2 linked regions of the Homo sapiens genome follow. The protein of the gene in region 1 purifies or fractionates together with the protein of each later gene. This does not show direct contact. Each region holds a gene or a part of one and is shown on either strand. Other genes may lie near its edges.

Region 1 (2,894 bases):
ATGACCAAATGCTAAAGAGAAAAATAAAACATGAGAGGGAAACAAGGAGCTCTTGGGAGGAGGTGCCAGAGACTCACAACAAGATTACAACACCAGAGTTCACAGTTAGCAAACAGCAGTACTCAACATTCTTACATACTTAAAAATATTCCCCCCAAATCACCCTAAATATAAAAACAAAGTTTTTTAGTAAAAGGCAGCTAATTATTTCTATTTTTTAATCTAAATTCAAAGTGTTCCATCCTACCCTAAATAAACAAGTGAAATCCCAACTGTAGAAATACGTTCTTTTCTTAAATGACTCACTATTCATCAAAACAATACTAATAGGATGGTGGCTATGAACATAGACTGTTGAGTAGAAAGCATGATACTTTTTAATACTCTTTATAGGGACAGGACAAATCCAAGCCATTACCGTGAGGAAAAAGTTCAAAGCATATGCACCCTGAGTTACTGAGAAAAGCAGAGTTGCAAATAGGGTAAATGACAAGATACCATTCCAAAACCACACAGCTTCCCTTTTTATTGATGCTCAAGAAGTGAACTTTAAATGACATTTCATAAGCAAAACACAAATGAAAACACCTAATGTGCATGTATAGTATATGTAAACATACATAGTATATGGACTCAATCATCCTCATCTAAATATAAAGAGAACAACTGGTTCTTTGACCTCAAAAATAAATTCAATGTTGGCATTACTGTTTTTAACTTACAGTGTTTTATATTTAACAGGAAAAATTATGAATAACCAAGTTTGGTGTGGTCATGGATTTCATGTTAAGGTATAAATAGAGTTTTTAAGAAATAATCTGTATAATAAAATAAGTTTACTTTTGAATCGCAGTACAGTCATTTCCTTCAATCAATAAAAATATTCCTTGATTACAAAGCAGCCTTATTTTGCAAATGTATTTCAGGAAAATAGCTCTAGCAATATTTGAAATACCACACTATTTTAAAAAGGCAGCGAAGTGACAGAATTTAGATTTAAAATAGTATATTGCAAAATAGTTCAACATATTATTTCTAAGCACAAGGCAAGCTCCATTCTGAAGGATGCTTTTTAATCTTATAAAGCAAACTGTTCCAATATTTCTGTGGTAAAGTCTAAATATTTACAATAAAAGATGAATCTTTACACAGACAGGACATAAACTTCAATACCTAACCACAATGCAAACATTTTACATTATGACATCACTCTAATGTGAAGCTTAGTTTGTTAACATGTGCTCAAGAAGGAAAATAAAAACAATACAGTTCTGTAGCTTTGTAACAGGCAGAACTCTGCAACAATTAGAGAAATAAAAACAGCAAACAACACCAGTTCTATGAGTAACAAAACAAAAAAAATCCAGATATTATAAACATTTAAGTAAATAACTAATACATCCTTCCTGATATATCTTTATTTGCTCTCTTCTGTTAAATACGTTTTTTAAAATGTTTCTCATATCCCAGGAGGAAAGGACAGTAAATTATTCACAAAGATAAAAGTGCATCATGTTTGAAAAGTGCTTTGTGTTTATGTGTTACAAACATATCCAATAAGGAAGTTAAGTAAGTCTGTGCAAAAAAAATCTAATTATTACTTGAATTCATAAACCTTAATCATGGGTTTTTTGTAGTTCATCCAGATGAAGCAGTCAAGCAGCAGAAGAAAAATCTGAGATTAGACATTTTGTATAGCAGAAAGAGCACTGGGCCACAAGTGAGGAGACCCACAGTCTATTCTTAGCTCAGTTAACCAACCAGTTAGTGACCCCAGGTAAGACGGGCTTCCATTTCAGTATTTGGCAATGGGCAAGAAGCAGAGCTGGAGAGCCTCTAAGGCCCCTTCCAACTCCAAAATTATCATGTATCTTTAGATGAGGCATTTCTGAAAGGGCAAATAATTTTACCAAAATATAAAACTACATACTAGTCATCTAGCTACTACTCACTCATTGGACTTATTAGTAATAAAGCACAGAAAGAAAGAAAAATTCCAAAAATGATTGACAAAAAAAGGTCACGTGAACATTACACATAACCAAAGCTAGAGAAACCCTTCACAATTAGGGCACTAAGAAAAATCCATTATGATGTGCAAAAACAAAACAGAATAAGCAAGAAATGCAACAGCTGGTCACCTGATGGCACTTTTTCTTCCTGAGTCCCAGAATCTTCTTGGAACCTAAAGCTTTAATTGGTACTTATTTTGAAAATTGCTTTAAAAGAACCATGATTCCCCATAGTTCATATTCATGGCTTTGTAAAGAACTCTCTCTGAATTGTTATAATGGTTTTTAAGAAGATAACTATATTTTCAAAATTTTAATATGGCTAAATAAAGTAAACCATTTACCATGGACTCTTTATTTACACCAAATATATATATTTGAGCTTATTTAATATTTTAGAAGCTTAACAATTCTCATCCACAAGTTTTGACCCATTAATTCCCCGATAGGTCACTCTGCTCGGTCGAACTAAGACTCCATGGTTCGGCTTACAGGTGAAATAGCGCTTGTCACCCACTGACCCATCATTTTTTCCCTTGGCGCTTCGGAGCTCAAGTCCAAGCCAGATACCTGAAGCAAAGTCAGTGGGGCCCACATACCTAACAGTACCCATCTCATTGGAGCTCGTGAGCAGGACCTGAGACCCCTCGTGCAGCTTCACGCTCCCTTCAATGCCACCTGCGGTGGGGGTGCTGCTCCAACTGCGACGCAAAGCAGCTTTCGATCTGTGCGGAAGGGAAAAGTGGGAAAAATTATTTAGTGCTGAAGCCACGTAATGCAATGCATCATATTCATTTCCACTGCCAGATTCAGAATTCATTCACTCAGTTCCCAAAAGAGAATACTTTATGGTCACAACTTGATTTTTAAATTTTAAATAGC
Region 2 (8,337 bases), on another chromosome or scaffold:
ACATGGGGCCGTTCGGGCTGAAGAGACGGGAAAGGAACTAGAAAAGTCCTGCTCTCCTAGAGGTGTGGATGGTCAGGGTGGGAGAGGGGGTATTGTCCAGCCAGCTCCTTGAGACTTTTTTTTTTGAAATGGAGTCTCTCTCTGTCACCCAGACTGGAGTGCAGTGGCATGATCTCAGCTCACTGCAATCTCTGCCTCTTGGGTTCAAGCGGGTCTCCTGCCTCAACCTCCCGAGTAGCTGGGATTAAAGGCGCACACCACCACACCTAGCTAATTTTTGTATTTTTGGTAGAGACAGGGTTTCACCATGTTGGTCAGGCTGGCTTCGAACTCATGACCTCAAGTGATCCACCTGCCTCAGCCTCCAGAAGTGCTGGCATTACAGGCGTGAGCCACCTCGCCCAGTCCCCCTTGAGACTTTTAACAGGGCGGTAGGCTAGCTTCCCTGTCCCCAGAGGGGGAGAGGAGGGAGGAAGGGAGAACAGCTCAGGGATGTGTTTTTATCCTGAGTCAAAAGCCTGATGAAGTCTGGAGATTGAAGAAGACACCCAAAGCCAGACTTAGTCCCAGGGCCTGGTTTGGAGGGAGGTAGAGTTGGGTTCAGACATTAGGGCCTGGGGCAGGAGCCTGGCATGGGGGGCCAGTTGTTTCTCACATCTGCTTCTCTTTGCCCTCAAACTCACCCTGCTCTCAGCCATCATCCATCACCAAATCCATTTCCATGCCTGCCTTCCTGCTTTGCTCCTGGCACCACATCTGTGGGCCAGCTACTTCCTCGCTCTGTTTCACCCACTGTCCTGTTTCTGTCATAGTTTGGGCACTGTCACTTCTCCCCTGTATTACCAAACGCTTCCCCCAACAGGCCTCTCTGACTCTAACTTCTTTCTCACCAGTGCCTTCTGATCACGGCAACCATAGTGATCTTTCTAAAGCACTTATCAAACCATATCTATCCCTAGCTTCGAGAGCTGCTCATTGCTTCCATGATGAAATTTAAAAGTGTTTGCTTTGCACTGGAGGCTCCAGGCATGATGTGTTCTCAGCTACCATTCTGATTCCATTTCCAGCCAAGCCTATCTTGTGATTACCAAGCTCGTTCCTTCCCCAACCTAAATCCTTTAGGCCACCTGCTTCAGGAGATTTCACCCACCTAGCTTGGCCCAGCGCACCTCCTCCACCTACCTGCTCTCCAGGGATCAGACACCCACCACTACCACTAACACACATAAACTCTGACACACTATATGCTAAATATCCAGATATGAGGCCATGCACGGTGCTCATGCCTGTAATCCTAGCACTTTGGGAGGCCAAGGAGGGCAGATCTCTTGAGCTCAGGAGTTTGAGACCAGCCTGGGCAACATGTTGAAACCCTGTCTCTACCAAAAATACAAAAAAAAAAAAAAATTAGCCAGGCATGGTGGTGTGCACCTGTAGTCCCAGCTACTTGGGGGGCTGAGGTGGGAGGGTCGCTTGAGCCCAGGAGGTCAAGGCTGCAGTGAGCCAAGATTGTGCCACTGCACTCCAGCCTAGGTGACAAAGTGAGACCCTATCTCAAAAAAAAAAAAAAAATACAGATATGACTACAGGGAAACACAGGCTCAGGGGAAGAGGTGTGTCCTACTCTGCCACTCAAGGCCACTGACCGTTCCTGTCCCAGGCTTCAGAGCAGAGTCCAACAAAGAAATAGCACCACCCAGGTGCACACACGGGCATACACACAGCCAGCCAGTTGGTTGCCCAACTGCTCCAGCTCGGGGGAAGAAGAGAAGGAGACTAGCAAACAGTAATTAGCCTCCTCCCAGATGCCAGTGTCTGTCTCTAAGTCCCCAGGGACTTCCAAGGAGATGCCGGAAATACTCAGGTTTTTCACCTCCCCCATGCAAGAATGCAAGGTGTGGAGCAGAATTTGATCCTAAATGTCAATACACAGCTCCTCCCATAGGCACTTCCCACACGGTGCTAGCTCAGGGCCTCATTCTCAGTGCCCTCTGCCCCCAGCTGCCTAAGCTTGTCAGCCCTAGCTGGTCTGGAACAGACTCTTATTCCCTTTCTCTCAGTCTACAATGACTTAGCTTTCCTCCCCATTCCTATATAGATACAGCTTAGAAAACACCTCCTGGAAAATGCAGCCAGTGGCCTTTAGGTGATGCCCTCAAGCTGAGCAGAACCCAAAGAAGGCTTTAGGTGGCTCAGATCACACCTGTGAGTTTATATTCATTCATTCAAGATAACCAAAGCCCTATTCTGGGCACCAAGGAAATAAGGAGAGAGAGGGTCAGTATCTGAAGAGGAGAGAGACTTCCTCATCCTCAAAACTTTCATATGAAGTCAGCCTATCTCATGAGCCCTGGAGGCAGGAAGAGGCCACCAAGGTGGATTCAAAAGCCCTTTCCGACAGTTATGTTTTGAGAATCTTAATTTTCTGGGATCTGAAGTTCTTTGATGAAAGACAGAAGCCCACAGGCCTGGGCACCCACCCACCCCAGGCACCATGATAGTGTCCCAAATGTCACCACAGCATCCAGTTCTATCAACAATGTGGAACAGCAGACATAGCTGCAGTGTCCATTTTACAGGTGAGGAAACGTGGCCCAAACAGAAAAAGGAACTTGTCTGAAGTTAGCCAGGTATCAAGGCTGCCTGGATCTAAAATCCCAGCCCAGCTCTCCACAGTGTAAGTTTTAGGAGATGGGAGATAATGATCTGACCTGGCTGCCTGAATGCAGTAGCAGAAAGGAGCCCTGGGGCTGAGCTGGTGGGACCAGCTTCCATCAGATGGACATGGCATGGTGAGGCCTGTCTTTCCAAGGGCTGGTGCTGCTGCTTGCTCCACGCGGACCACGAAGACCACGAGGGCAGCAAAGAGGGCAATTTTAATGGCATCTGGTACCGGGGCTTTGGGGGAGGAAGTCTGTGGTTCCGGTGTTAACAGTGGTGCCAGAGACCTCTGTAATCTGCCGCCTCCGCCAGGTGGAGTCTGGGCTCTGCCCCTGCTGAGCCTCTCCCCACCGGACACTCAACCTCAGCCTTGGCTGCCACAGCTAGTCTGGTCTGAGGGGGAGGGCCCCGCCCGACTCAACTGAGGGGAGGCCATTCCAAGTAGAATCGTTAGTTGGACACAGTTCCCGGGGGGATGGAAATGTCAAAGGCAACTCGATCCGGCCCATCTCCCTCTCCTGCCAGGCGACGGTATCCGCGGGGATCGAGTGACTGCCTACATAGCCTGGAATACTCCACAGCCGCCCTCCCTACCCCGCCCTGAAGGCTATACTGTCCGAAGGGGCCGACCGAGGTCAAGGGACCTGTCGCCCCGCGGGAATCGCGGCCGTGGGATGGGCCCAGGTGTTCAGGCTCGCTCCACCCATTCATCGGTGGGAGCGAAAGTTCAGGAATCGTGCTCCTTCAGCAGCCCCCCGCCCCCCACAGCCCTCCCGCTGGGCTCACCCATTGCAGTTACAGCCCGGCAGAAGCGGGGGTGAAAGAGCTTCCCGCCGATCCCCTGCGCTTGAACCAGAGTGAAGCTGCCGCCGCGCCGCGCGGGGCTCTGTCTGGCAGGGCACAGCCCCTCCTCGGGTCCCGCCCTGGGGTTCCTCGGCCACGCCCCAGTCATCCAGTCTCGTCTCGGGCCTCAGAGTCCAGCCCTGCCCTTGACGTTCGACCCCTCCTCCCAGGTTATCAGGCGGATCTGTGGCCCCGCCCCTCAGCCCCACCTTCCTCCCACCGCTCTGTGCTCTGCCCCTGGCATTTCAGGCTTGCTCAGTCCTGCGCCCCGCGGCTCCGACTCCCGCCGGCGGGCCCGCCCCTCCTGGGCCACTGCTAACCCGCAAGCGGGCGGGGCTCGGCCCCAGGCCTGCTGGGACATGTAGTTCTGCAGAAAGGAGCAGCTGCGGAAGGTTGGGGTTCTTGCACCTCTAGGCTAGGTTTGGAATGAGGATGAGAGGGAGAGAGCTGCAGGGTAAAGGAGCAGAGCTGGCCATTGGAATTCCTTCCTTCCCGGTTTGGACAGGTGGAGGCCATATCGGTATAACGCTCTCACAAGCCCTCAGCTTTCCATACGGAAAAGTGGTGGCGGAATTCCGCGAGTATCTCAGCTCCCAATGCAGGTGCTTCCAATCGAGGGCCCCACGGAGGGAGCTGTAGTTCCAACCCGCCGCGAGTCCAAGCTGTCGGTTCCCACCGGACCAAACCAGCGGTGTCCGAGGTCAGGGACTGAGAAGACCGGTTTCTGCTCGGTGTTTTGCAACGTCACCCGCCTCCCAGACCGCTACCCCCAGACTAGTTATTTATAGGGTCCAGCCCCTCCTCCTAAGTTACAGCCTTTAGTTAGAAATGCCCAAGCTGCGGGAAAGTGGGTGTGCCCCGCCATGCCCCTCTCCCCGGGGGCTGGGCAAGACTCTGAGGTTTCATTTCTTTTTTATTTTATTTTATTTTTATATTTATTTATTTTTGAGTTTCGTTCTTGTTGCCCAGGCTGGAGTACAATGGCACGATCTCAGCTCACTGCAAACTCCGCCTCCCGGGTTCAAGCAATTCTCCTGCCTCAGCCTCCCAAGTAGCTGGGATTACAGGCACGCACCACCGCGCCTGGCTAATTTTGTATTTTTAGTAGAGACAGAGTTTCACCATGTTGGTCAGGCTGGTCTCAAACTCCTGACCTCAGGTGATCTACCTGCCTCGGCCTCCCAAAGTGCTGGGATTACAAGTGTGGGCCACCGCGTCCGGTCTTTATTTTTTTGAGAGAGGGTCTCGCTCTGTCGCCCAGGCTGGAGTGCAGTGGCGTTAACATAGCTCACTGCAGCCTCAATGTCCTTGGTTCAAGCTATCCCCTCCCGCCTCAGGCTCCTGAGTAACTTGGACCACATGTGTGTGCCACCATACCCTGCTAATTTTTAAATTTTTTTGTAGAGAAGGGGTCTCTTTATGTTGCCCCAGCTGGTATCGAATTCCTGGGCTCAAGTGATCCTCCTGCCTCTGCCTCCCAAAGTGGTGAGATTACAGGTGTGAGCCTCTGCACCCAGCTGGTTTCATATCTATTTGATGCAGAAATAAAAATACTGAAGATCACAGAGATTTTAGAATGGCCCCTTCTCGCTCCCTGAGGGGCAGAGAAACAGGGCTTTGTTTTGCAACTTGAAATTTCTTTGTCATGAGACCCTCCAAAATTATGTTTTGACCAGTTGGACTTGGAATGGGGGACACACCTTGTGCAGCAAGGGTGTCTGAGCACAGAGAGGCTTTTGGGAGGCTGTGATGGGGACTCCTGGAAGCAGAGATCAAGAGCTTTGGGTGTAGGGATAGGTCTTTGACTGTGGAAGGAAGGATTCTGGGTCCTCTGATGAGTGGGAGGGCATCTAAGTTTGGGAGCATACTGAAGAAATGTTAGCTGGAGGGTCTTCGTGGGGTGGAAAGTAGATGGCTCCTGCCTGCATTGCAGGGTGGACCCATCCGTTTGGGCTCTGGGATTCAGGGGAGGAGGATAGCAGCTGGATATAAGGCTACTGTTCTGTGTCAGGAGGGCACTCAGGGATGTACTGAGATGATGGGGTTGGAAGGGCCCAGGGAAGGGTGACTTTGAGAAAAATTGCATCTCAGTTGAAGGGGTTTGATAGAGGCCTGAGTGACTGGCCCTTCACTTCCAGATCCTGCTGGGTAAGGACACAGGAGGCAGGCTTTGGGGTTGAAGAGTTTATTTATTGCTCTGCCCCCTTGGCACAGCAAGCCCAGGCTCTACCAGCAACGATAGTCGGGATAGGTCTCAGACACAAACTCAGGATGGATAACATAGTTGTTTCTCTGGGGACCACCAGACTTCTTGAAGTGACTTGTGTCCCATCTACAGGAAGAGATGGGTCAGCCGTTTTGGATCCTCATATGTCAAAGTGAATATCTGACTCCAGTTTGCAATGCTAACCTTATCCCTACACTTTGTCTATAGCACTGACCTTGGGTTCCAATACTGACCTCCTGACCTTAGGTTCTACTGTTAAGTTGCTGATACCCAATATTTCCTCCTTAACATCGACTTCTTACTCATTACTTCAAGCTCTGAACCAACGCCTTTGGCTGTAAGCCCACTGCCAACCTGTAACCCTTCAATACCGGCCTCCTAGCCCTCTCTTAAGGTCCTCTGTCCTTACCACCTTTGACTGCTCCATGCCACTAGCTCCCCCTCGTGGTATGTGCCTGTCAGTGCACCGCGGAGCGTTCTCATCCCGTCTACCAGACATCCTCCCCCAGCCCCGCCTCACCAAGCCTTCAGGGTGCGTGTGCAAATGAGTGTGTGCGCGTTAGACTTACCTAAGGTTCGGATATGGGTAGTATGACGGCGGGGGAGTTGTAACAGCACACTGCATTCCGGGCCGGTGCTCGTAGGGAGGTACACATCTGGAGAAGGAGGAAGCCGCGAGCATGGAGGGGTTGGGCCTTTTGACTCTCATCCCCCGATTTAGACCAAGCCCCTGGGCGGCGCTTCAGGTGTCCGTCCCAAGGCTCGGAAATCCTCCTCTCCTTCTTCCTCACCCTTCAAAACCCCCACTGCAGCACCGATTCGGGAACCCCCCTTGGAAGACTCCCTCCCGGCAAGGCCTCATTTCTGCCGTTGAGGAAAGAGCGCTGGACCCTGGGGAAGGTCGGGCTCCGGGCGTTGAGGACCTGGAACCACCGGATCCCCGCCACTGGACAGCAATTTCTCCAGCAGTAGGACGAGGCATCATTTCTGAGCTTCCTAGAGGCTCAGACACTTTCCCACTCCCCTATGCCCTTGAGAGGGATAAGACTCAGTCTTGCACAATGAATCAGGCTCTCTCGGCCTGGAGAGGGGCGGGGGATCACTATGGACCCCCACTGCACAGCTCTCTGGGCTACCGCGGACAAAGTTCTCCCAGGCTTGGCTGCCGCCGCGTGCAGGACGAATGCCGAGCTGCAGTCTGGGCTCCAGCTGTGCGCTCGGGCCTCAGTTTTCTTAGCAGTAACACGCGAGGGTGCCTACCTCCGCAGGTGGTGCGGGATCCGAGGAGGCCAGAGCCATTCTGGTAAAGTGGTCACCATTTCCCGGCTCACGTAGCCCCCAGGAATGACCGCACCCACTACCGACGGTGACGGGGGACCAGCAAGAGAGGACATTTTTCTGAGAACGCAGGGCACTCCACAGGCTAGAACCTGCGTCTCTAGGGCCAGGAGTCCAGGAAAGGGGGCAGGGCCAAGGAGATGGGGGAAGAGGATGCGACTGATGTGCGGGGTTTCTTCCTCAAAAACCCTCTGACGGGACCTCCAGAGCATATAGAGAGGCCAGGTTGACCTTGAGCCCAGTTTGAGAGGGACAGGGGTCGGGGACTTGGAGTAACCTTCGTGCTGGTTCTCCCGCCTCAGTTGTTAGTTCAGGCCTTGGAGCCCGAGGGCGGGACACGGCAGGGCCTCGAGAGCGTGCAGCGCGGGGCTAGAGCAGGCTGGGGGCCTGCACGGAAGCTGGCCGGGCTGGAAGGGGGCGGGGTTCTGGGGCGGGGCTTGTGTGGGGTGGAGCCCGGCTGAGGCGGGCGGAGCCCTGCGAACCTTACAGTCGGTTGCTCCCGGCACCAAGGCCGCAGGCGGCGGTCGGTGCAGGGCGCCCCGCTGGCGTAGTAGTCCATCCCGCGCAGACAGTAGTGGCGGCCCGAGCAAGCACTTTCGTAACCATGGAAGGGCAGGCGGCCGGGCAGCGGGTCCACGCACCCGCATCGGGGCGTGATCCGCGGCAGCTGCTGGTTCCGCGACAGTGAGTTCAGCATGTTCACCATCACTTCGCGCTCTGCTCCCGCGGGTCCCCAGCGCAGGAGACCCAAAGACAGATGCACAGGGATGGGAAGAGGCCGAGTCACGGACAGAGTGAGGCGGAGACAAAAGCCAGGACGGATAGATTCAGGGTTCCACCCTCTCCAGGACCCTCGGCCTCCTCCCCGTCCTTCAGGTACCCATCCCGCCCTCCTCCCGGCCTTCCCCAACCCTCTCCACCCGTTCTTTCCAACGCCCCACTACCACTCTTTACCGTAGGCATTGAGCCGCTCCGGCCTAGGAGGGCATTCCAAGGGCATTCCTCGAACTGCTGTCTCCATCCTGGCCTCCTGGAAGCGGCACACATGCTACCTCAAGCTCTGACCTGGCAGAGCTGCTCCCTTTTAGGGGTCCTCCCAGAACACCCAGACCTATCGCCACGCCGCAACTTCTCCCGCCCTTCAGCAGCTCCCCACCTCTCCAGGGCTCTGTGTTGGCGGCTGTCACCGGGCAACGCTTTTACATCGCCAACAGGGGCGGGGTGGGGTAGGAAGGGCTGAAGGTGGATGGGGTTTGGCTCCTGGGCCT

What was found.
Region 2: the proteins of CLIP4 (region 1) and MYORG purify together in Homo sapiens (affinity purification with mass spectrometry; 2 studies listed by BioGRID and IntAct, with this or other methods). This does not show direct contact.

Annotation. Positions count from the first base shown.
Region 1 is NC_000002.12:29,181,415-29,184,308, reverse strand, and holds the end of CLIP4 (CAP-Gly domain-containing linker protein 4), read right to left. Parts: exon of another isoform or gene 2,744-2,894; intron 2,738-2,743; coding exon 2,416-2,737; 3' UTR 501-2,415; downstream 1-500.
Region 2 is NC_000009.12:34,373,346-34,381,682, forward strand, and holds the start of MYORG (myogenesis-regulating glycosidase), read right to left. Parts: upstream 3,554-8,337; 5' UTR 3,448-3,553; exon of another isoform or gene 2,712-3,447; intron 1-2,711. Other genes in the region: SPMIP6 (sperm microtubule inner protein 6), read right to left, coding at 5,731-5,836, 6,301-6,387, 7,552-7,786, 8,024-8,099.